Linked DNA regions of Homo sapiens: region 1 is linked to region 2. Evidence: fine-mapped expression QTL. A gene starts in region 2. The other region holds a variant in brackets. All regions are shown on one strand. Distances are between the middles of the regions.

What was found. PIP is the estimated chance that this variant, and not a neighbour inherited with it, causes the effect. A credible set is the group of variants that fine-mapping cannot tell apart.
Region 1: its variant is the best candidate, but not a certain one, in a credible set for the expression of SCNN1G in lung (TOPMed, PIP 0.87).

What each region holds. Positions count from the first base shown.
Region 1 is chr16:23,358,369-23,366,368 of GRCh38, reverse strand. All of the region lies in intron 4 of SCNN1B (sodium channel epithelial 1 subunit beta), which reads right to left. Among named protein-coding and RNA genes, the nearest start is that of SCNN1B, 60 kb to the right of the region's middle. RefSeq lists an enhancer at 484-543 and a silencer at 407-701. The variant G/A (reference allele first, on the strand shown) is at 3,682.
Region 2 is chr16:23,170,642-23,187,034 of GRCh38, reverse strand. SCNN1G (sodium channel epithelial 1 subunit gamma) reads right to left here and starts at 4,290. Exons shown (of 13, transcript NM_001039.4): 1 at 4,222-4,290; 2 at 447-807. The coding sequence starts at 763. RefSeq lists enhancers at 282-781, 782-1,283, 14,306-14,807 and a silencer at 4,319-4,568.

The DNA of each region.
Region 1 (8,000 bases), 180 kb before region 2:
CCAGGAGTAGTGGTGAGTGTCTGTAGTCCCAGCTACTTGGGAGGCTGATGTGGATTGATCACCTGAGCCTGGGGAGGTTGAGGCTGTAGTGAGCTGTGATTGCACCACTGTACTCCTGCCTGGGCAACAGAGTGAGACTCTGTATCAAAAAAACAATAATAATTTGTAAAAAATTAAAAATAAAAACAGGAAGGAATGAGAGTAAGTACATCAAATAATGCACACACATAAAACGTCACCTGCCATGCAGTATTGTCTTTGAAGCCTTATGCTCCACAGCAAACATTCACTGAGTGACTTTTATGGGCCAGGCCTGTGCTGAATCTTTCTGTATTCGTGATCTCATTTAATTCTCAAAATAACCCCACAAGGGCAGGTGTTATTTTCCCGTGTTTTCAGATAAGAAAGCCATTTCCTGTATCTTTTGTCTCAGCTAGTTGACTTGCAGAATGACTTGGGTCCAGGACAGGCTGTGAAATGGGATATGGGGGCCGACCCAAGCTCTGCCACTGTCAACAGATTTGAGCTGCTTACTCAACCTCTGAGCTTGGGTTTCCTCAACGGTGCAAGGGGAAGCAGGAAGAAACCACATTTTTCCACCCAATAAATGTTTGTTGAGGTGGGTGCTAGGCTAGGGACACTGAGCAAAACAAGACAGGGCTGCCTTTTGCAGCTTCCAGTGTGGCAGAGGACAGAGAGTGGAATCCTATCAACCCCCCTCTCCTTCCAAGATGTGACTTCTTTCTTTTTTCTTTCTTTCTTTCTTTCTTTCTTTCTTTCTCTTTCTTTCTTTCTTTCTTTCTTTCTTTCTCTTTCCTTCTTTCTCTTTCCTTCTCTCTTTCTCTCTTTTTCTTTTCTTTCTTTCTTTTTCTTTCTTTTCTTCTTTTTCTTTCTCTCTTTTCTTTCTCTTTCTCCTTCTCTTTCTTTCTTTCTTCCTTCCTTTCTTTCTCTTTCTTTCTCTCTTTTCTTTCCTTTTCCTTCCTTCCTCCCTTCTTCCCTTTCTCTCTTTCTCTCTTTTCTTTTCCTCCCTTCCTCCCTTTTTCTCTCTTTCTCTCTTTTTCTCTCTTTCTCTCTTTCTTGACAAAGTCTTGCTCTGTTGCCCAGGCTGGAGTGCAATGGCGTGATATTGGTTCACTGTAACCTCTGCCTCCTGGATTCAAGCAATTCTCCTGCCTCAGCCTCCTGAGTAGCTGGGATTACAGGCAGGCACCATCACGCCCAACTATTTTTTTTTTTGTTTTTGAGATGGAGTTTTGCTCTTTCACCCCAGGCTGGAGTGAAGTGGTGCCATCTCAGCTCACTGCAACCTCTGCCCTCTGTGTTCAAGCGATTCTCCTGCCTCAGCCTCCCGAGTAGCTGGGATTATAGGTGCCTGCCACCACAACCAGCTAATTTTTGTATTTTCAGTAGATATGGGGTTTCACCATGTTGGCCAGGCTGGTCTCGAACTCCTGACCTCAGGCAATCCACCCACCTCAGCCTCCCAAAGTGCTAGGATTACAGGCGTGAGCCACCATGCCTGGCCTAATTTTTGTATTTTTAGTAGAGATGGTGTTTCACTATGTTGGCCAGGCTGGTCTTGAACTCCTGACCTCAGGTGATCTCCCACCTCAGCCTCCCAAAGTGCTGAGATTACATGTGTGAGCCACCACGCCAGGCTCCAAGATGTGACTTTAGTCTGTCCACCTGTCTCCACCTCAGACGCTCCCACCCTGGCCCAAGTCACCAGCATCTCATGTCTGGATTCTTGCTGGAGCCTCTGCCTCTGTTCATCCTTAAAGTCTTCCTTCTGCACAGCAGTCAGGGTGATTGTTTAAATTTGTGAGTCAGAGCACGGTACTCCCTTTCTGAGAACCCTCCAAAGGCTTCTTGTCACTCACAGAATAAAGTGCAAAGTCCCTATGCTGGCCTTCTATGTCTCATTCCCTACACTCCAGCGACACTCTAGATGTTTCCAAGCTCAAGGCTTTTGCCTCTGTTGTCCTTTGTGCCTGGAATATTCTCTAACCAGCTCTTCAGATACTGGCTTCTCCCCATCCTTCAGCTTTTATCTGCTCTGAGGCCTCCCTGAACCCCTATGCAAAGTGATGGACTAGAACTATTAGTTAATAGTACTTTATTACTAATAGTAATAGAATTTTCTACCTAGTTACTCTAGATCTTTTCCACCAGTTTATTTATATTTATTTATTTATTTATTTTGAGATGGAGTTTCACTCTTGTTGCCCAGGCTGGAGTGTAGTGGCATGATCTCAGCTCACTACAGCCTCTGCCTCCCCGTTCAAGTGATTCTCCTGCCTCAGCCTCCTGAGTAGCTGGGATTACAGGTATGCGCCACCACGCCTGGCTAATTTTTGTATTATTAGTAGAGACAGGGTTTCACCATGTTAGTCAGGCTGGTCTTGAACTCCTGACCTCAGGTGATCCACCTGCCTTGGCCTCCCAAAGTGCTAGGATTACAGGGTGAGTCACTGCACCTGGCCCTTCAACCAGTTGATTATCTTCTTTATCAGATACATCAGAATCTGAAATCAGCTTCCTTTTTTTTTTTGGTAGAGACAGGGTGTCACTCTGTTGCCCAGGCTGGAGTGCAATGGCGTGATCATAGCTTACTGCAGCCTCAAACTCCTGGCCTTAAGATATTCTCCTGCCTCAGCCTCCTGAGTAGCTGGGACTACAGGCATGTGCCACCACACCCAGCTAATTTGTAAAATTTTTTGTGGAGATGGGGTCTTGCTATGTTGCCCAGGCTGGTCTTGAACTCCTGGCCTCAAGTGATCTTCTGGCCTCAGCCTCCCTAAATGCTGGGATTATAGGCATCCACCACTGTGCCTGGCCTGAAATTATCTTCTTGATTTAATTGCTCACTTAGCTGTCTCCTGCTTAGAACATAAGCCCGGGGAGGGAGCATGACCTTGTCTGTCTGGAAGGAGAAGAGCTCAGAGGTCAAGAGCACAGGCCACAGAGCCAGCCTGCTTGATTTCAATTCTGGCTGTGTCCCTTAGCAGCTGGTGAGCTTTGGGATGGTTACATCACGTCTTCGTGCCTCACTTTCCCCATTTGTAACACCAGATAATACTACCTACATGACTGCGGCAAGGGGTGGATGCCTAGCATACTGTAATACTCAAAAAATCTTGGCTGCTACTGTTCACAGCTCCATGCCCAGGGTCTGGTACAGAGCACACAGACACTCAGTAAATATTTGATGAATAAATTACAATAGGCGATAAGAGCATCGACAGAGATAAGTATGGAGAAGTGACACCCAAGTCCCAGTGGAGAGTGGGGAGCGAGTCAGGGAAGGTTTCCTGGAGGAGGGGAGGCCTGAGCTGAGACTTTATGAACAAGTAAGCGATGGCTAAGTCTACAGGGTAGGGAGGAGAAAGGGCTCACCAGGCAGGGACACAACACAGGCAAAGCCCCAGAGGGAAGAAATAGCTCTGGGCGGGCACCATGGAGTCTATAAACTGTGGGATCAGGGCTGTGGCCACAGGAAAAGAACAGAGCAGAGCAAACCAGCTCAATCCAGGCCCTGCTCTTGAAGGAGAGACCTCGCCCCAGGGCATGGGGACACAGTGTTCCCAAGGAACTGTCTTGGTCAGATGCAGCCCAGGAGCAGGAGGCTGCATGGGGTGTGGCCAGGTCCCCTCCTGCCCGCGCCATGCTCTTGGTCTCCAC[G/A]TGCGTGCCAACTATTTGCTTGTTGATAATACTCTTCACCCAGAGAGGCTGCTCCCAGGACTGGCTGCCTCTGATTCCAGAGCCAGGTGTTTCCCTACAGAAATCTCTGCTGGGCTGGGAGCCAGGCATGCAGACAGAGACCAGTGAGCCTCCAGAAAAGACTGGGAAATAGAGCATCCTAGCAGGAAGCAGTATAACCACTGTTGTGTGGTCAGAGGTCAGGAAAGACTTTCCAGGGCAGAAACTAGTTGGATAATCCCTGAAACAACAACAACCATAGTAATAATAATGCTTATATATGCCCAGATCTTGGTTTCTTTATTTTTAAATTTTATTTAACTTTATTTTTTTTTTTTTTGAGATTGCTCAGGCTGGAGTGCAGTGGCATGATCTTGGCTCTATACAACCTCTGCCTCCCAGGTTCAAGTGACTCTCCTGCCTCAGCCTCCCTAGTAGCTGGGATTACAGGTGCATGCCAACACACCCGGCTAATTTTTGTATTTTTAGTAGAGATGGGGTTTTGCCATGTTGGCCAGACCGGTGTCAAACTCCTGGGCTTAGGCAATCCTTCCACCTCGGCCTCCCAAAGTGCTGGGATTACATACATAAGCCACCATGCTTGGCCCAGATCTTGGTTTCTAAATACCATTCTTCAATTTAAAAAACCAGAGCTTGGGCAAGTCTTGTTGGCTCTCTCCTGTAATCCCAGCACTTTAGGGGGCTGAAGTGGGAAGATTGCTTGAGCCAGGAGTTTGAGACCAGCTTGGGCAACATAGGGAGACCCCATCTCTACAAAATAAAAAAATTAATCGGGCACGCGATTGTGTCACTGCACTCCAGTATGGACAACAGAGTGAGATCCCATCTCAAAAAAAACAAAAACAAAAACAAACAAACAAACAAAACAACCAAAAAACCAAACAGAGCTCTTTAGAGAAATGGCTGATTCTAGGGCGGGGGCATCCTGTAGTGCCAGAAAGTAGGCAAAAGTTAAAAAACCCACCCAGGTGAGGACATATCAAAGGCACACAGGTGCTAACTGACAGAGTGGCCAAAGCTAGAAGAATTTAAGCAAGAGAATAGATAACAAGGAATTGGATTACAACCTAAATCTACAGGAGTCCATACTGTGTCAATAAATGATGGAATAAATAAATAAATGGAGGAGATGAGACAAATCTTCCTTTACAGAAGAATTCCAAATAATATATATTCTTCTCTCTAGGAGGGGTGGAGCTCAATGCTCCTTTCCCACTGGCCACTCCCTTCCCCTTCCCCTGAGCGTAGTCTGAATTTAGTGACTCCTTTCCAAAGTACAGAGCAAAGGCCAGCACAGTGGCTCACATCTGTAATCCTAGTACTTTTGGAGGCTGAGGAGGGAGGATCACTTGAGTCCAGGAGTTGGAGGCTGTGGTTTTTCTGTAAATCTAAAACTATTCCTCGATAAAAAGTCTCTCTAGGCCAGGCGCAGTGGCTCATGCCTGTAATCCCAGCACTTTGGGAGGCTATGGCAGCAGATAACCTGAGGTCAGAAGTTTGAGACCAGCCTGGCAAACATGGTGAAACCCTGTCTCTACTAAAAATACAAAATTTACGCTGGGCACAGTGGCTCATGCCTGTAATCCCAGCACTTTGGAAGGCTGAGGCGGGTGGATCATGAGGTCAGGAGATCAAGACCATCCTGGCTAACACAGTGAAACCCTGTCTCTACTAAAAATACAAAAAATTAGCCGGTTGTGGTGGCGGCTGCCTGTAGTCCCAGCTACTCGGGAGGCTGAGGCAGGAGAATGGTATGAACCCGGGAGGCGGAGCTTGTGGTGAGCCGAGATAGTGCCACTGTACTCCAGCCTGGGCGACAGAGTGAGACTCTGTCTCAAAAAAACAAAACAAAACAAAACCAAAAACCAAAAACCAAAAACCAAAAATTAGCCAGGTGTGGTGGTGCATGCCTGTCATCCCAGCTACTCGGGGGGCTGAGACACGATAATCACTTGAACCCGGGAGGCAGAGGTTGCAGTGAGTGGAGATTATGCCATTGTATTCCAGCCTGGGGGCAAGAACAAAACTCCGTCTCAAAAAAAAAAAAAAAAAAAAAACCACCACCACCACCAACAACAAAGTCTCTCTCTCTATATTTTACTCTCACTCTGTCACCCAGGCTGGAATGCTGGAATGCAGTGGTGTGATCTTGGTTCACTGCAGCCTCAAACTCCGAGGCTCAAGTGATCCTTCCCCCTCAGCCTCCAGAGTAGCTGAGTCTACAGGTGTGTACCACCACGCCGGGCTAATTTTGTTATTTTAAAATTGTTTTTTGTAGAGATGGGGGGTCTCACTATGTTGCTCAGGTTGGTCTTAAACTCCTGGCCTCAAGCGATTCTCCCTCCTTGGCCTCCCAAAGTGCTGGGATTAAGTGAGCCACTGCACCTGGCCAAAAGCCTTTTTATTTATTTATTTATTTGTTTATTTATTTATTTATTTATTTATTTTTTTGAGATGGAGTCTCGCTCTCTCTCCCAGGCTGGAGTGCAGTGGCATGATCTCAGCTCACTGCAACCTCTGCCTCCTGGGTTCAGCCTCCTACCTCAGCCTCCCGAGTAGCTGGGATTATAGGCGTGAGCCACTGCACCCAGCTAATTTTTGTATTTTTAGTAGAGATGGGGTTTCACTATGTTTGCCAGGCTGGTCTCAAACTCCTGACCTCAGGTGATCTGCCTGCCTCGGCTTCCCAAAGTGCTGGGATTATAGGCGTGAGCCACCATGCCCGGCCCAAAAGCCTTTTTAAAAAAATGCTCCTATAATGTTTACTATGTGCCAGGCATTGCACCAGGTACTTTGCATATGTTCTCATTTAATCCCCCAATAATGCTATGTGGTTATTTCACTGTCCCCACTTTCCAGGTGAGGAAACTGAGGCACAGAAAGGCTAAGTAGCATGCCCAGTCACATACTGAGCTGACATTCAAGTCCAGGCAGTTTGGTGTTGGGGTCCACATGCGGCTCACATTTTCCTAATTCTGCAGCTGCTGCTTCTAGAGTGTTTGTCATGTTAGGAGGGGGACAGGATGGAGTCAGAGAGAGAGGGAGGAAGCAGGGGCCACAGTGTCTGTGGCCCAGCACCGGGAGAGCAGAGAGGCACATTCCCACAGCTGTGTCCAAGGCTGACTCAGGAAGGCAGATGACCAGTCAACTGTGGGAGTGAGGAAGAGCTCAGAGAGCAGTTGGCTGAGATCTCTATGCTAAGGTGCCTGGATGGTACCTTTCACTGGGACCTGCCGAGGGCTGGGGAAATAGGCTTGGGAGAGGTGGGTAGGGAGGGAAGATGACGATCACCCTTTCTGATGAGGCAATAGAGTGATGCGGGGTGGGCCTGGCCCAGACTGCTAGCTCTGCCACTCACCAACTGTGTGACTTCAGAGATGTTACTTAACCTCTCTGGGCAGGTTACAGCAACTATAAAATGATGGGGAAGGCTGGGCGCGGTGGCTCATGCCTGTAATTCCAGCACTTTGGGAGGCTGAGGTGGGAGGATCACTCGAGGCCAGGAGTTTGAGACCAGCCTGGGCAACAGAGTGATACCCTGTCTCTTAAAAAAATAAAATAAGGGGAAAATAACAGCTCCTTTCTCATGACTTTGTTGCCAGAGTGAAAGCAATTTTAACACACAAAGTGCTTAGAATAGTGCCTGACACCTACAGGGACGAGAAAGGCCCAGTAAATGTTGGCATAATTATTGAATTTGCATTCCTTGTCAAATTGGGGTTTTTGTTTTTGTTGCTGTTTTTTAAGAGAGTCTCCCCCTGTCGCCCAGGCGGGAGTGCAGTGGCACAACCTCGGCTCACTGCAACCTCTGCCTTCCGGGTTCAAGTGATTCTCGTGCCTCGGTCACCTGAGTAGCCGGGATTACAGGCATGCGCCACCACACCTGGCTAATTTTTGTATATTTAGTAGAGATGGGGTTTTGCCTTGTTGTCCAGGCTGGTCTCGAACCCCTGGTCTCAAGCGATCTGCCAGCTTCGGCCTCCCAAAGTGCTGGGATTATAGGCATGAGCCACTGAGCCCAGCCTAAAATGTGGGTTATAAAACTATTATAAAAGTAATAGTTATAACTATTATTTATTAAGCCCAGTAGTAGGGTCAGTTACTCATGCATATTAATTCACTTAATATTCAAAGTAACCATGTAGGGTAGGTATTGTTCTCTCCCCTATTTTACAGAGGAGGGAAACTGAGGCACAGCAAGGCTAAGAAACTTGTTCAAGGTCACACAGCTTGTAAGATGGAGCCAGGATTTGAGTCTAGGTGGTCTAACCCCAGACCCC
Region 2 (16,393 bases):
AGGTCAGGAGTTCAAGACCAGCCTGGCCAAGCATGGTGAAATCCTGTCTCTACTAAAAACACAAAAAAATTAGCCTGGCGCTGTGGTACACCCCTGTAGTCCCAGCTACTCGGGAGGATTGTTAGAACCTGGGAGGTGGAGGTTGCAGTGAGCCGAGATCGCACCACTGCATCCCAGCCTGGGCAACAAGAGCGAAACTCCATCTCAAAAAAGGAAAAAGAAAAGAAAAAAAACAAGTCACTGATGGTCTGAAAACTTGGTACATACAGATTTAGAACTGGGGAGGGGGCTGTTTACCAGCGTTAGCAACAAATTCAAATTTCTAGAAAGCACATTTGTAGGCTGGAATCGACCTCCAGGCTGCCAGTGTGTCACTTTCGGGAGGGGCTTTGGCCTCTGTGGGGGGCCTGGCTCCCTACTCGCGTTTCCCTGCTCATGCCTCTTACTTGTAGGGGTTGATGTTGCAGATGGTGACTGCAGGAAAATCCAGCTTCCGGAAGTGGACTTTGATGGAAACTGAGACAGTATAGAAGGAGAAGACGAGGAGGGCGCACTGCCAGAGGATGAGGGCCACGGCAGTCAGTGTGAACCCGATCCAGAGGAGGCGGCGCAGACGGCCGCGGGACACCACGATGCGGCGACAGCCATGGGTGTTGGTGTTGAGGCAGTACCACCGCATCAGCTCTTTAATGGTCGGCGCCTGAGGGCCCGTCACGGGCAGATTCTTCTTGATTTTGGCTTTGATCTTCTCTCCGGGTGCCATGGCGAGGATGGGACTTTGAGGACGGGACTCTGAGGACGGGCGTGCTGGAGGGGCAAAGAAGAGAAGCAGGTGAGCTGGCAGGCACTAGCCGGCTAGTGTGTCCCTGGAGACCACAGTCTGGGAAACACCAGTCCATGCGCCCTTAGAGACCTCCTTCCTCTGTTCCTCTGTGGCTTAGGCACTTTGCATTCTGAATCCTTGGCCCCTTTTCCACGGGACGTTTGTTTTTGGCCACCACAGCTGCCAGAGAAGCTGCCTACTTCTCTTACGGCCCCCAGGCCTAGCCGTGCGGGGGCTGGGTGAGGTGCAACCTGCGAAGCGCTGGCTGGACAGGCTGCAGGACCTTTCCCCGGGTTCCTGGGCAGGAACTCTGGAAGCAGCCCCATCAGCTCTCTTATCAGGCAGGGGTACCCGTGCCTTATCACCTCCAGTAGCCCGCCTTCCTCAAGGGCAGCATTCCTATCTCATTATGCCCCCTGGTTCCTAGCACAGTGTCTGGCACAGAGCAGTGCTCGGCAGATTGTAACTGACAGATGAAATCTGCCAAGAAAATTTCCCGGCAGCCACCTTAGATCATGTTCCTGGCTGCATTTTCCCCAGCCTTTTCTCTGAGGCTTTATTATAAGTGAAACGATTTCTCTTTTGTTTCTTCTCTTTACAGTCAAGCTCTTAATGTTTCTAGATCACCTGATGTAACAATAACCTGCAACTATTGGCCACTTAGTGTTTGCCAGGCATTGTGCCATATTTCCTTGATTCTAAGATACCATTAATTTAGAGAATGCCCTTGATTTAATAACAGCTTTGGGGGAGAGTACCAGTATTGGAAGGCAAATTATCACATTCATCAATGTGCACGATGCATCTCAACTATACAAACTTTACAATGAGAAATAATTTTAGAAATGAACTAATATACTACATAAAAACTCATTTCATGTTTATAATATATAGTCTCATTAGTCTCATAAGTAAATTTGTCTCTCTCTATAAATATACACATAGCCTACATATATTTCCTTTTGTGTTTCAATAATTCCATGAAGTAGGCATGCTATTATTATATCCATGTTACAGAGGAGAAAAATGGGCTCAGAGAGGTTGAATATCTTGTGTAAGATGATGCAGCTGGTTAGTGGAGGAGCTGGATGGAACCCTGCAGCCTTCACCGCTATGGCATACGCCTTTGAGGGGCCTGGTAGTACGCTGGGTGCAGGGAGTTAATTAACAATACCAAGAACTAAAGGTAGGAGGAAAGAGAAGGAACACAGCTATTTAATTTCCAAACTCTGAACAGTGCACATGACCACTTCCCAAGACTTGTGAGCACTAGTATTGGGGGTGGGGGATATATGAAAACTGTGTCGTCCTATGCCTTCTACAGTGACAAAGGCAAATTAGGACATATCCTAGGGCATACAGGGTGGTCCCCAGGACCAGAGAGGACCCATGTCTGTGACTTCGATGTGCCCCATCAAGATTTTTAGGCAGTATTCGGAACCTGCAGAGTTATGTCTTTTTTTCCCACCCTGAACCCATGAAATATGGGCTAAAATTGGAAGCTGGGGCAAAGCTAGGAGGCTTCCAAGCTTATGATGCTAGTGGGTTTAAGGCCTCAGATGGAAAGGAAATGGAGTGCTGGGCATGGAGGTGAGATGTCCAGAGCAGACAAACTGCTCTAAACCCTCCATAGATTGATATGATTTTGCTGGGATGAAGAACACCATCAAAATGATGCTAGTAGCCTCTGGGCAAGAGGAATATAATTTATTTTTTTATCACTTAAAATATTGCCTATCCTTACCTCCTCCCTCACTACAATCCAAAAAAATAAAAAATGAAATAAAGAAGAAGGAAAGAAAGAAAAAAATTAGCGAGAGTTTGTTTTTAAAATCTAGGTCCAGGTTCAATTGCTTGTCAAATAAAACTGCAGCCCTCCTCTGTGAATGTTCAACAGAAGCTGTGATTCTGGAAGCTCCTATCCCCAGCTCTCAGGGGTACCTCTGCCCCATCAGCCCCTTCCCCAGAACCGACCTTGACCCCAATGGATCAGTCGACAATGTCAGAGGAGCCCCCAAGTGAAGGAAGGGAACTGATCTTGCTCTTTGCAAAACAGATAAAATATTCATATAAATAATATTTCAACTTCAAAGCAAAACAAGACTGTAGCTACCATTAGATTATGCAGCCTGAGCCAATGTGATACCCTTGGTGGAAGAATTACTAGCTGATACCCAGCACTTACTCTTCTAAGTACTTTGCAGCTGTCACCTCATTTAATTTTCACGATAATCGTCTGAGGTAGGTATCACAACCACCTCCATTGTACAAATGAAACAGACGCTGACAGGTTAAGTAGCTTGCCCAAGGTCACACTAGAAAGTGGCTGAGCTGGGATTTGCACCTAGGAGTCCCTTTAACGACTAACTAGGCTGCTCTTCAATCATTAATAATAATAACAGCAGCAGGGAAAGCAGCAATAATGGCAGCTATCACTTATTGATCCCTTTCTGTACTCCCAGGCATCCCACTCAGTCCTTTTCACACACTACCTGATTTAATCCTCACTACAGTTATATGAGGTGCTATTACTTGGCCCATTTCACAGAGAAGGAAACTGAGGCACAGAGGTTAGGTAATTTGCCCAAGACCACACAGGTAGAAAGGATTTGAAGGATTCTTTAGAATTCCAGGGCCCTGGCTCATCGCAGCGGCTCCGTGCACCCCCTCCTCACCTACCACCGACTTTGCCTGTCCCCCATCCCACAGTGCAGGACCCCAAAGCTTGGAGAGGGATGAGAGATTTGCCCCAAGTCTAGCGTTGGGTTCGCTGGACCGGAGAGTTCCCGATCAGTGCCCGTCCCGAAGGGCGAGTCCTGTGCAGAAATCACTTGAACTCAACCTCAGGGCCCTGACCCGAGCTCCTGCCGAGCGACCCCGCAGCCCTGCCCTCCCTGCGCGGAGCGAGCGGGCGCTGTCCTGTGGCGGAAGCCACGTCTGCCCCGGGGGAGCGCCGGCTGAAGGCGCTGGAGCGAATCCAACCAGCCCACTTCAAGTGTTTGCTTCTTTCTGCACCAAGTCACCCCGGAGAAAGCATTCCAGAGGGTAGAAGGAACAGTAGCGGACAGGTCCACGCGACTCACCCCGGCAGGGAAGGGGGCTGAACAGGCGCTGGGCGGAGAAAAGAGGCCAGGTGTGGCCCGGGACCCCCAGACCCCCGGACTCTGAGTGGCTCTCGACTGGCTTCGTGCTCCGGGCCACGGCGTGGGTAGACCCGGGAGAGCTGGCCGCTACCGCCCGGGCAAGGTGTCCCAGCATCCCGGGCACCGGGAAGCCGCCACCGGCTGATGCTGGCTCGGCCACCCACCGCGCTGACGGCGTCCGACGCCCTGGCGCCCGGCATCCGCTCCAGTGCCCAGAACCCCCGAGCTGGTCCGACCCAACCCGGCTGAACTCACCTTTCGGTTCCAAAGGGTCCAAGGCTCGTGCGGGTGCGCTGCTCCTCTGCTCGCTCTCGGGCTAGCATCCCCTGGCAGCGCCACCGCGGGCTCTTGTGGGCCGGCCAGGCCCCGCCCCCTAGGGACCCGCCTCCCCAGGCCCCGCCCCCACCTGCCCAGGTGCTTTCCCCAGGCCGCCAGGCACCTGAGACCGCCCGGAGCGGGCCACGACTTCACAACGCCCCCTGGCGCCCCGAAGCCGCCCTGCGCCCCAGCCCGGCCGCGCTGCGTCTTCCTGGGCCACCGCGCAGTGCCTGCTGCCGCCCCGAGGCCGCCCTGCCATCCTGCATTCCCGCTGGGTCTCTGCGGCACTTACCCCAAGGCGCCTCAAAGCGCCTGCTGCCCCCTATTACTGCCCCGCGACTTCCTTCCACTCCCGTCCAGATGGCAGGTGCCTGCCCTAGCACCAGCAGTAATCCCACGCAGCCTCGCTCCTCGGACTCCCTCCAGACCTGCAGCTTCAGTGCCCACCAGCGTCCGGCTGTAGGCAGCAGGGGCTGTTCAGCCAGGCCACTCATCCTTTGACCTTTTCAGCTGCTTCTTTCTCTTTCTTTCGTTATTTCCTCCTTCCTTCTTCTTTCTTTTCCTCTTTCCTTCTTTTTTTTTTTTTTTGACGGAGTCTCGCTCTGTCGCCCAGTCTGGAGTGCAATGACGCTATCTCAGCTCACTACAACCTCCGCCTCCCGGGTTCAAGCAATTCTCCTGCCTCAGCCTCCCAAGTAGCTGGGGTTACAGGCGCGCGCCACCATGCCCGGATTAATTTTTGTGTTTTTAGTAGAGACGCGGTTTCACCATGTTGGCCAGGCTGGTCTCAAACTACTGACCTCAGGTGATCCACGCGTCTTGGCCTCCCAAAGTGCTGGGATTACAGGTGTGAGCCACCGCGCCTGGCCTGTCCTTCTTTCTCTTTCTCTCTTTCTTTCCTTTCTTTCCTCCTTCCTTCCTTGCCTGCCTGCCTGCCTTCCCGCCCGCCCACCTTCCTTCCTTCCTTCCTTCCTTCCTTCCTTCCTTCCTTCCTTCCTTCCTTCCTTTCTCTTTCTTGCTTGCTTGCCTTCCTTCCTTCCTTCCTCCCTCTTTCTTCTTTCTCTCTCTCCCTTCCTTCCTTCCTCCCTCCCTCCCTCCTTTTTCTTTCTTCCTTTCTTTCTTTCTTTCTTTCTTTTTCTTTCTTTCTTTCCTCTATTTCTCTCTTTCTTTTTTTAACAGGGTCTGCCTCTGTCACCTTGGCTGGAGTGCAGTGCTGCAATCATAGCTCACTGTAGCTGCCAACTACTGGGCTCAAGCGAGCCTCCCACTTCAGCGTCTCAAATAGCTGGAATTACAGAGGTAAGCCACCTTTCCTAGCTTCAGCTGCCTTTTTATAGGGACTCAGATAACTACAAGAAACGAGATTAGAAAACTGCAATTGGGAGGGACCATAGAGACACAGCCCCTTTGTGCCGGGGAGAAACTGAAGCCCAGAGAGAGGAAAGGATCTGTTCTTACCTAGAGCTTCTCAGATTTGAATGTGGTTACAATCACCTATGGATGTTGTTAAAATGCAGATTCTGACTCGATAGGGGTGGAGTGGGTCTTAAGAGTCCGAATTTCCAAATTCCTAGGAGATGCCTTGGTTGCTGGTCCAAGGGCGGTTTGCCCAGGTGGATGGAAACAGGTCCAGCATTATTGGAGAGAAATTTAAAGAAAATCCTCTAAAAAATCTCAGCTGCTTCTTCTAACAATATATGCTCATTGCAAAGAATTAAAACAATAAACTGTGCCCCCCCCTCCCCAAATAAGCATGGCTAACAGTTTGGTTATTATTTGGTGTGTGTGTATGTGTGTGTGTCCACACACACATATTAGTTTTATATATATACACATACATATATAATGGGATTTTGAAACACACACTGTTCAAATTCTATGTTTGTTTTGAATGACAATACACAGTTATATTCTCACTGCAAAATAAAGCCAGCTTTTTCTTCTTTTTGTCTTTTAAATTATTTATTTATTTATTTATTTTGAGACAGGGTCTTGCTCTGTCACCCAGGCTGGAATGTAGTGGCATGATCATGGCTTACTGCAGTCTCAACTTCCTGTGGCTCCAAGGATCCTCCCACCTCAGCCTCCCAAGTAGCTGGGACCCCAGGTGCATGCCACCGATACCCAACTAATTTTTTTTTTTTTTTTTTTTTGGTAGAGAAGGGGTTTCACCATGTTTGCAAGGCTGGTCTTGAACTCCCGAGTTCAAGGGATCTACCCATCTCAGCCTCCCAAAGTGCTGGCATTATAGGCATGGAATTAGGCTAGATTCAAGTTAAAATTTATATACAGTGAAACGCACAATTTTTTTGTTTGTTTGTTTTTGAGGCAAGGTTTTGCTCTGTCACCCAGGGTGGAATGCAGTGGTGTGATCATAGCTCACTGCAGCCTCCAACTCCTGGGCTCAAGCAATCCTCCTGCCTCAGATTACAAAATAGTAGCTAGGACTAGAGGTCTGTGCCACCATGCCTGGCTAATTTTTTATTTTTGTGGAGATGGAATTTCACTATGTTGCCCAGGCTGGTCTTGAACTCCTGGCCTCAAGAAATTTGCCTGCCTTGGCCTCTCAAAGTGTTATGATTGCAGGCATGAGCCACTGCACCTGGCCCAAAATGTACAAGTCAAGGAGTTTTGGTAAATGTGTACACTCCTATGACCAACACCATCTGATTCTTCAGTACAGAGTGGTATTGCCTCTAAACCACTCCTGTCATCATAAGACCATAGGCAACGTCCTCTCCTTCTTGAAGCATCAGTGTTCAGATTTATAAAATATACCTAGAATCTACTTCTCCCCACCTCTGGGGCCACCACCATGCTCTAATTGATCATTGTCTCTCACCCGAATCATTGCCATAGGCTCCTCACTAATCTTGCTAATTCTGCCCTCCACAGCCTCTTGTCAATAAGCCAGTCAAAGAGATTCTTATTGAATTAAGGTTAGATCATGCCATTTCTCTATTTAAACCCATTCAGTGGCTTCTTGCTTCATTTATAATGAAAGCCAAAATCCTTATGGTCATCTGCAAGGCCCTCCATCATCTGACCCTGTTGTCCCTCTGCCCTCGTCTCTTCCTACTCACACTCGCATATTCTGCTTCACCTTCACTGGCCTCCGTGCCATCCTTGCATATGACTATGACCGAACCTAGCCTTAGCAAAGTCATTTGGTTTCAGGCAACAGAAACAGACTCAAATTAGCTCAAGCAGAATCAATAAATTATTAAATGGATGCAGGCAGGGCTCCTTTACAGAATCCAAAGAAACACAGAGGGTCTCAGGAGAATGGGAACCAGGAAAGGTCTGGATCTCTCAGGAGGAGGATTTTGTGGTCTTTTTTTATTTTTATTTTTACTTGAGACAGGGTCTGGCTTTGTCACCCAGGCTGGAGTGCAGTGGTGCGATCTCGGCTCACTGCAACCTCCACCTCCTGGGCCCAAGTGATACTTCCCCCTCAGCCTCCAGAGTAGCTGGGAACATAGGCATGCACTGCCACACCCAGATACATTTTGTGGGTTTTGTAGAGATGGAGGTCTTTCTATATTGCCCAGGCTGGTTTCGAACTCCTGGGCTCAAGCAGTCCACCCGCATTGGCCTCTCAAAGTGCTGGGATTACAGGTGTAAGTCAGTGCGCCTGGCAGAGGATTTTGTGGGCTTTCTTGAATTTTCAAAGCCTGTCTTAGTCTCATGAGTCCTGAAGATAAATTTGATTGGCCACTGGCCTGCCAATGAGCTAGTTTCTTTGGCTCAGGTGTATTCATTCCTGGTCCAATCAGCTAACACTGTGAGGGTAGGAATGGGTAAAACAAATATGACTGAAGAGATTCACCACTACTGGTAAATGGGAAATTCTCAGATCATGTGGCTGTAAGTGAGGAAGAAACCTTAAAACAAGTGAACCAACATTTCCCTTTGTTTTCAAAAAAACACTTCTGGTCCACTTAGGAAAAAGCAATATAGATGAGACTTACATTGCCCCCTAAATACTAAGATTTTAGACTTGCTTGTCGAGAGCAATGGTGTAGAAGCCATTTGCTTGTTTTTCTGCCAATATCCATTCTTTTTATTCTAGAGACATCCCTGAATTTCCTTTGGAGAACCATTCAATCCTATCCACACCCCCCATCCTCATTCATGTGGTTCAACTTAGGTTGACCCCCATCTCTGGCTCTAGCAAATCAGCTTATCTTGTCACTCAGGTTATAGTCTTTTTTTTTTTTTTTGAGATGGAATCTCGCTTTGTCGTCCAGGCTGCAATGCAGTGGTGCTATCTCGGCTCACTGCAATCTCCGCCTCCTGGGTTCAAGTGATTCTCCTGCCTCAGCCTCCCAAGTAGCTGGGACTACATGTGCACACCACCACACCCGGATAATTTCTTTTTTTTCTTTTTTTTTTTTTTAGTAGAGACAGGGTTTCACCATGTTGGCCAGGCTGGTCTCAAACTCCTAACTTCAGGTGATCCACCCACTTTGGCCTCCTAAATTGCTGGAATTACAGGCATGAGCCACCATGCCTGGCCTTTAGGTTACAGTCTTTTGCTCAGGAGTGGGCACAGACAGAAATTCAATCCAATGAGAGTCTGAGAGTCACACCCACCCAAGACTTTGTCTAGAATATTGCAAAGGAGGATGTCTCTTTTTACTGGGACTTCTAGCAGAAAGGACTGTGTGATCCAAGGGCTGTGGAAAGTATCACATAGGGCCTTAGAGTGAAACCAACACAAAGAAAAGCAGAGCCCAGTGATGGAGAGGGTTCCAGCAAGTCTCTGGACCCAGCACTGCCTACAGCTGGGTCTACCTTCTGGAATTCTCAGTCATATGAGCCAATAAACTTGCTATTGTGTTTAGGACATTTTGAGTTGTTTATCTCACTCAAAACCAAAAAAGTCCCAACTAATATAGAGAATAAAAATCCTATCTTCCCACTTGGATGTGGTGATGTCTTCTTCTGTTTCTTAAAGTGAGTGTATTTCATATCTAGTCCCAGATGAATATCTACAAATCTGGGCAACATTTTTATATGCCAAATGACAACAGGGAGAGCCCTGAGCTATTTAAAGGGATAACAGGTAATTAGAACTCTGACAGGGAAATAGACTCCCCTTGATCCTAGCTCTCTCTCTCTTTTTTTTTTTTTAGATGTTGTCTCTGTCACCCAGGCTGGAGTGCAGTGGCGTGATCTCAGTTCACTGCAATCTCTGCCTCTTGGGTTCAAGTAATTATCGTGCTTCAGCCTCCTGAGTAGCTGGGATTATAGGCATGCTCCAACATGTCAGGCTATTTCTTTTGTATTTTTAGTAGAGACGGGGTTTCATTGTGTTGGCTAGGCTGGTCTCGAACTCCTGACTTCAAGTGATCCACCTACTTCAGCCTCCCAAAGTGCTGGGACTACAGGTGTGAGTCACCGCGCCCAACCAGCTATCTCAATAAGACCCAAAGTTTACCAAATTATCTTCATAGGACCTAAGGCTAATATGAGTCAGGTGTGGGGTCAAAGGGACTCACATTTCCAGGATCACATTTATATTATGTAGTCGGATGGGAGGGTTCTAAGAAGCAATCAACAAGGTCTTCCTTGTTGAAGACAAGGAAAGTCTTTCTTGCTGGGCTGATGAGGGTGGTGGCATGGTAGAAGACCATTCTTATTTATTAATTGGACTCTAATTCAATGACCTGGATACTATTTCTGTGTATAGTCTTAGCTTAAGCCAATAGCATCAGTTGTTGAAATAGAGAAATATAAGCTTGGTTACATTAATTTTCTAGGACCCTTTTTCCCCAAAGGGTACACATATGTTTCTGGCAAAAGTTAGTACCATTTTTCTAGTGTAAGAGACTTTTTTTTTTTTTGAGACAGGGTTTCACTGCTGCCACCCAGGCTGGAGCGCAGTGGCACAGTGTCGACTCACTGCAGCCTCCACCCACTGGGTTCAAGCTATTCTCCTGCCTCAGCCTCCCAAGTAGCTGGGACTACAGGCACATGCCACTGTGCCTGGCTAACTTTTGTATTTTTTGTAGAGATGGGATTTTGCCATGTTGCCCAGACTGGTCTCGAACTCCTGAGCTCAAGTGATCCGCCTGCCTTGGCCTTTCAGAGTGAAAAAACATTCTTTTACTAATTAGACTTTTTTATGGGTCAAGAGAATGCACAGATTACCCATGGTGATGGGGGCTTATTGAAAGCACAACTTCCCAGCTGTGTCGGAGGGGCTTTTATTGCCCTATACCCCATCGATTTGGCCCTTGTAAATTCCACATTTTATCATGCATCACTCAAAACATTCTGCATCCAGCACTTATTTCTAATTCAGGTAAAACTCTATATATTGCAGATATCAGAATCAAACAACCGTGAACTAGCTTAGGCTAAAGAATGAAACAAATTAGCTCATGTATAAGGGAGTCTGGCTTCAGGCTCAGCTTACACTTGAATTCAAAAGATGTCAACAGGTCCTGGTTTTTCTGCCTTTGAGTCTTGGTTCTAATTCATCAGTGTTCACACCATTCTCTGTCCAGTGTTGTTGCAAGATGGCTGCACTAGCTCTAGCTTCTACATATACATAATGCTGAGTCCAGAAGGACTGATAGCTTAAGCACATATTGTAGGACAATCTTGATTGAGCTTTATTGCCTTGTTTGAGGCATGTTTCAACTTCTTTTTTTACTTATTAGAGATGAGGTCTTATTCTGTTGCCCAGGCTGGAGGGCAGTTGTGTAATCATAGTTCACTGCAGCCTTGAATTTCTGGGCTTAAGCCTTCTGAGTAGCTGGGATTAAAGGTGCAAGTCACCATGCCTGGCTGTTTCAACTTCCAGTTGAACACCATGATTAGAAGAATGGGATGCATTGATTGGCTTAGGCTTGGATTATATGCTCTGTCTCTGGGTAGATTCAGCTTCACTCAAAACACAAGGGCTGAGAATGGGGAAGAAGTGGTTCTTTCCAAGCAAAATCAGAATAAATTCTGGGTTGCAAAAACATCTCATATTGCATAATTTCTCTACTGTTGCCTTCTTTGGCACTTGCAACTGATAATTGTCTCAGTGAAACACTCTCTTCTCTTGGCTTCTCCAATGCATTGCTTTCCCTGAAATTCTATTTATACTCCTTTGGAACATTTGTTTTTGTTTTTGTTTTGAGACAGAATCTCACTCTGTCACCCAGGGTGGAGTGCAGTGGTGCGATCTCAGCTCACCTCCCAGGTTCAAGTGATTCTCCTGCCTCAACCTCCTGAGTAGGTGGGATTACAGTCATGTGCCACCACGCCCGGCTAATTTTTTTGTATATATTTTAGTAGAGACGGGGTTTCACTATGTTTGTCGGGCTGGTCTCGAACTCCTGACCTCGTGATCCGCCCACCTCGGCCTCCCAAAGTGCTGCTCCCAAAGGGCTGCGTGAGCCACCACGCCCAGCGTTGGAACGTTTTTGCAATACCTCTGTAGAGTTTCTGGTCCTTAGAGGATCACTGCTGGGGTTCAGGGTCTCAGGAGGCTAGTCACAAGAGATAGCAGGAGATCTCAAAACTTCCATAGAGTCAGAGGAGATATAAAGATATATAAAGTGGCTTAGAAAACTTGGTTAAGCTGCTACTAAGGCTTAGGCATCTGTGGCACAGGGTTGGCTAAATGTGGGATCCAGAGGAGATAAGTAATCTTGCTCCCAAGTTTGACTCTTTCCAGGATTCCTACAAATCTAGAATGATGTCCCTCAGTTCTTGTGGATGTTATCTTGCCCCACCAAGATGGGATTAATGCTCTCTCTTCATGCATTCTTAATGACTTAGTCTTTTGGGGCAACCTACTGTCTTTGACCTTTGGGGAGTAGGAACCAGGGTCCTCAGATTCAGTTGTGTGGATTTCAATTTTTTTGATGCTGCTTCTCTTGAGAGAAGCTGGCTTTAGATATCAGCACTGCGGACAGCAGCCATAGTTTCTCCTTTTATGCAGGAGGTCTCCAGTGGAAGCCTCATCGCCCATGACATGCAATTCACAATTTTGGAATGAATAGATGAAGGAGTGAAAGGGGCATTCTCCAGCCAGTCTATTCAGTCTGTGTGGATGAGAGATATCATGGTCAGATTACCTTTAGAACTGGACATGTACAATCAATTCTTGCTATTTGGGCTAGCTATGTTCTATAAAGCTGCCACAAACACTGAATTAGTGAATACTGAACCATTGCTTCTAGAAGAAATATAGAGTTCGGTTCCCGAGAGCCTCTGGTCACAACGTTGTCATTAACTGATCGATACGTAACTTTGTTTTATGTGTGTTCTTGTTTAAAGTCACCTTGTTTAATATATAGTTGATTCAATAACATTGAAATAATGGCCAACAGCACTATATAACTCATGCCTGAATAAAGCTTACCTAACACATATATTTTTTCAGTAAGGCACATACAGCCTTCCTGTGCTTAGGAATATTAGATAGCACTTCAGCGCTAGGGAGCAAACTCACCAACAAAACAAAAATGTGAAAATTGTGGCAGCCTATATAGGCTGCAAAAAAGGACATGAGTTTACAGTATAAGAGCTGAAACAAGAGGGTAGAGTGTTGCCTTATTTGACCTCAGCTGGGAACAAGCACAGTGGGTGACTAAAATTTTTGCTGCTTGGCACATGTCCCTAAAGGCATTGCAAGTATTGATTTTAGGGTTACAAATAAATTCTAGTGAAATATGAAATCCATGAATAATGAGAATTGACTGGGTTTTTTTTTAGTTTTCTTTAAGCCCGTGGGTTTGTTCTTCATCTTTTGGATTTTTCTCCAAGTCTCAGAACACAAAAGATACTCAGAGGTTATGGAAGATGATGTCCTTACAATGGCCCATAAGGCCCTACATGATTTCATTCACTCTCCCTTTTCTTGAGTCTGAGAGTGTAGAGTTAGGTTATTGATTTGAGATCTTTCTTCTTTTTTAATGTAGGTGTTCACAGCTGTAAATTTCTCCCTAATAACTGCTTAAGCTACATCCTCTAATTTTTATATGTTGTGTCATTTTTACTCACCTCAAAATATTTTCTAATTTCTCTGTTGGTTTATTTTTTAATTTTTTAATTTTTTTTTTTTTGAGACAGAGTCTTGCACTGTCACCCAGGCTGGAGTGCAATGATGCAATCTCTGTTCACTGCAACTTCCATCTCCCAGGTTCAAGCAATTCTACCTCAGCCTCCCAAGTAGCTGGGATTACAGGCTTCTGCCAACACGCTCTACTGATTTTTTGTATTTTTAGTAGAGATGGGATTTCACTATGTTGGCCAGGCTGGTCTTGAACTCCTGACCTCATGATCTGCCCTCCTCAGCCTCCCAAAGTGCTGGGATTACAGGCATGAGCCACCATGCCCAGCCGGTGGTTTCTTTTTTGATCCAATATTTATTTGGGAGTGTCTTAATTGTCACATATTTGTGAATTTCCCAAATTTCTTTCTGTCACTGATTTACAATTCCACTAAATTGTGCTTAGAGTACAACGGCCCCCAAGTGTAGTGCGAAGTGCTATCTAGTATTCCTAAGCACAGCAAGACTGTATGTGCCTTACTGAGAAAGGCATATGTTAGACAGGCTTTATTAAGGCATGAATTATAGTAATGTTGGCCATGATGTCAATGTTATTGCATCAACTACATATTAAATAAGGTGACTTTAAACAGAAACACACATAAAGCAAAGTTACATATTGATCAGTTGATGAAAATGTTGTGACCAGAGGCTCTCGGAAACCTAACTCTGTATTTTGTCTAGAAGCAATGGTTGACCTTCTCCCCATTTTAACCTGAGCTGCCTAATGCACAGTGGGGCTGGGGAGGGGCTGGGGGAAGCAGGGCTGAATCTTGGATCCTGGGGAAAGTTAAAGATGCAGAAGTGATGTCAGCTCTCTGTAGCGCAGTTCCCTTCCTGGTCCTTGCCACACAGCACCTTCTACAGAGACTAGCTCTGTGGGTGGCGGGGGCCCCCACAGGCCCCACTGCTTCCCCTCCCCGCTGCCCGTGCTGCTTCTCTGTGCCTGCTGTTGGAGCTCTGATGAAGGAGTAGCTGGCTGCCTTGTGAGCTGGAGGGGGCTGGGGCATCTGCCTGGGTCTTTGCGGAGAGCTGCTTATGGGTGTGGTCTGTCCAGGCATGTTGTTTCAAAGGCGGTGGACGTGAGCAAAAGCATCCTCACAGTTGATCAATAACTTTTCTTGTTTTTAAACCATCATGTCTTCATTTTACATTGGAATAAAGCGAGTTTTTGAAACCTGCCAAAAAAAAAAAAAAAAAAAAGAAGAAGAAAGAATGGTTCAGTATTCACTAAGTCAGTGTTTGTGGCAACTTTATAGAACATAGCTATCCACAACAGCAAGAATAGGCCAGGCGTGGTGGCTCATGCCAGTAATCCCAGAACTTTGGGAGGCTGAGACAGGCAGATCACCTGAGGTCAGGAGTGCGAGACCAGCTTGACCAATATGGTGAAACCCTACCTCTACTAAAACTACAAAAATTAACCTGGCATGGTGGTGAGTGCCTGTAGTCCCAGCTACTTGGGAGCCTGAGGCAGGAGAATCGCTTGAACCCAGGAGGCAGAGGTTGCTGTGAGCCGAGATGGTGTCACTGCACTCCAGCCTGGGTGACAGAGCTAGACTCTATCTCAAAAAAAAAAAAAAAGAAAAAAATTGTGCATGTCCGGTTCTAAAGGTAATCTGACCATGATATCACTCATCTATACACACTGAATAGGCTGGCTGGACAATGTCCCTTTCACTCCTTCATCCTCCTTACTGTATTCATTTCAACATTGTGAATGGCATTTCATGGGAGATGGGCATCCCATTAGAGACCTCTGGCACTGCATGATTTCAATCTTTTAAATGTACTTGGTTGGGCTTGTTTTGTGGCCTGTCATATGGTCTATCCTGGAGCCTTACATGATTTAGTAATGTTGCCAGAAGGCTCAGGAAGGTCTCCCGATGCCGCTGAGGCCTCAGTCCTAGCCACTGGCCAGATTCTTTACACTGTCGGGAGAAAAAATTCAGGGATGAGTCAGAATGAAGCAAGAAGCTTTTATTGCAAAGTGGGAACACACACTTAAGAGAGAAGGGCGGGCATGCTTGGGAGAACGAATCTCACACGATGGAGTTTGGGTTTCTAATTCTATGGGTGTCTCTTCAATTAGGGGTTGGAATAATCAGTAGGTATTCTGCAAAAGGAGGAAATTTCAGGGACCCCAATTACTGCCTACGTGTTTGCCTGGAAGAGTCATGGACACGTCATCCTGACCAGGGTTTTGGCCATTTTCTCTCCCTTCTTTTGTGTTTTCGGTTATCCTGTGGTTTCTTTGCCTAGTTCTTGTTTGAGCTGTTGTTTGGGCTTTTCCATCCTCCTGTGATCACCCAGTGCTGTTCCTATCTCGGTACCACTCAAACCTCAAATCCTACTATTCACCCTGTGTTTATTTCTCTCTAGCCACTCTGGCCTCCTTGCTGTTTTGCAAACTCATCCAGGCACGTTCCTTTCTGAAAGCCTTTGGAGTTGGCTCTGCTCTGACTGGAATGCTCTCCCTCCTGATTTTTGCCTGGCTCCCTATTTCACCTCCCTCAGATCTTTGCTCAAGAGTCACTCTCCCAGCAAGGGACCATTGCTATTTATTCATAACCACGCTATTTAAAATTTCAACCCCATGTACATTTTCTTTAGTTTCCCTGTCCAGCTTTATTTTCTCCATAGTGCCAATTTTCTGTTTAAATTTTTTTTGCTTTTAAGTATATATATATATTTCTAATAATTTACATCTATGATATAGGTTTCTTTATTTTTATGTAATTTTTAATTTTTGTTGGTACATAGTATGTGCATATATTTATGGGGTACATGAGATGTTTTGATACAGGCATGAAATGTGAGATAAGCACATCATGGATAATGGAATATCCATCCCTTCAAGCATTTATCATTTGAGTTACAAACAATCCAATGACACTCTTTATTTTAAAATGTACAGTTAAATTATTATTGACTTTAGGCCGGGTGCAGTGGCTCATGCCTGTAATCCTAGCACTTTGGGAGGCTGAGGTGGCTGGATTGCTTGAGCTCAGGAGTACAAGACCAGCCTGGGCAACACGGCAAAACCCCATC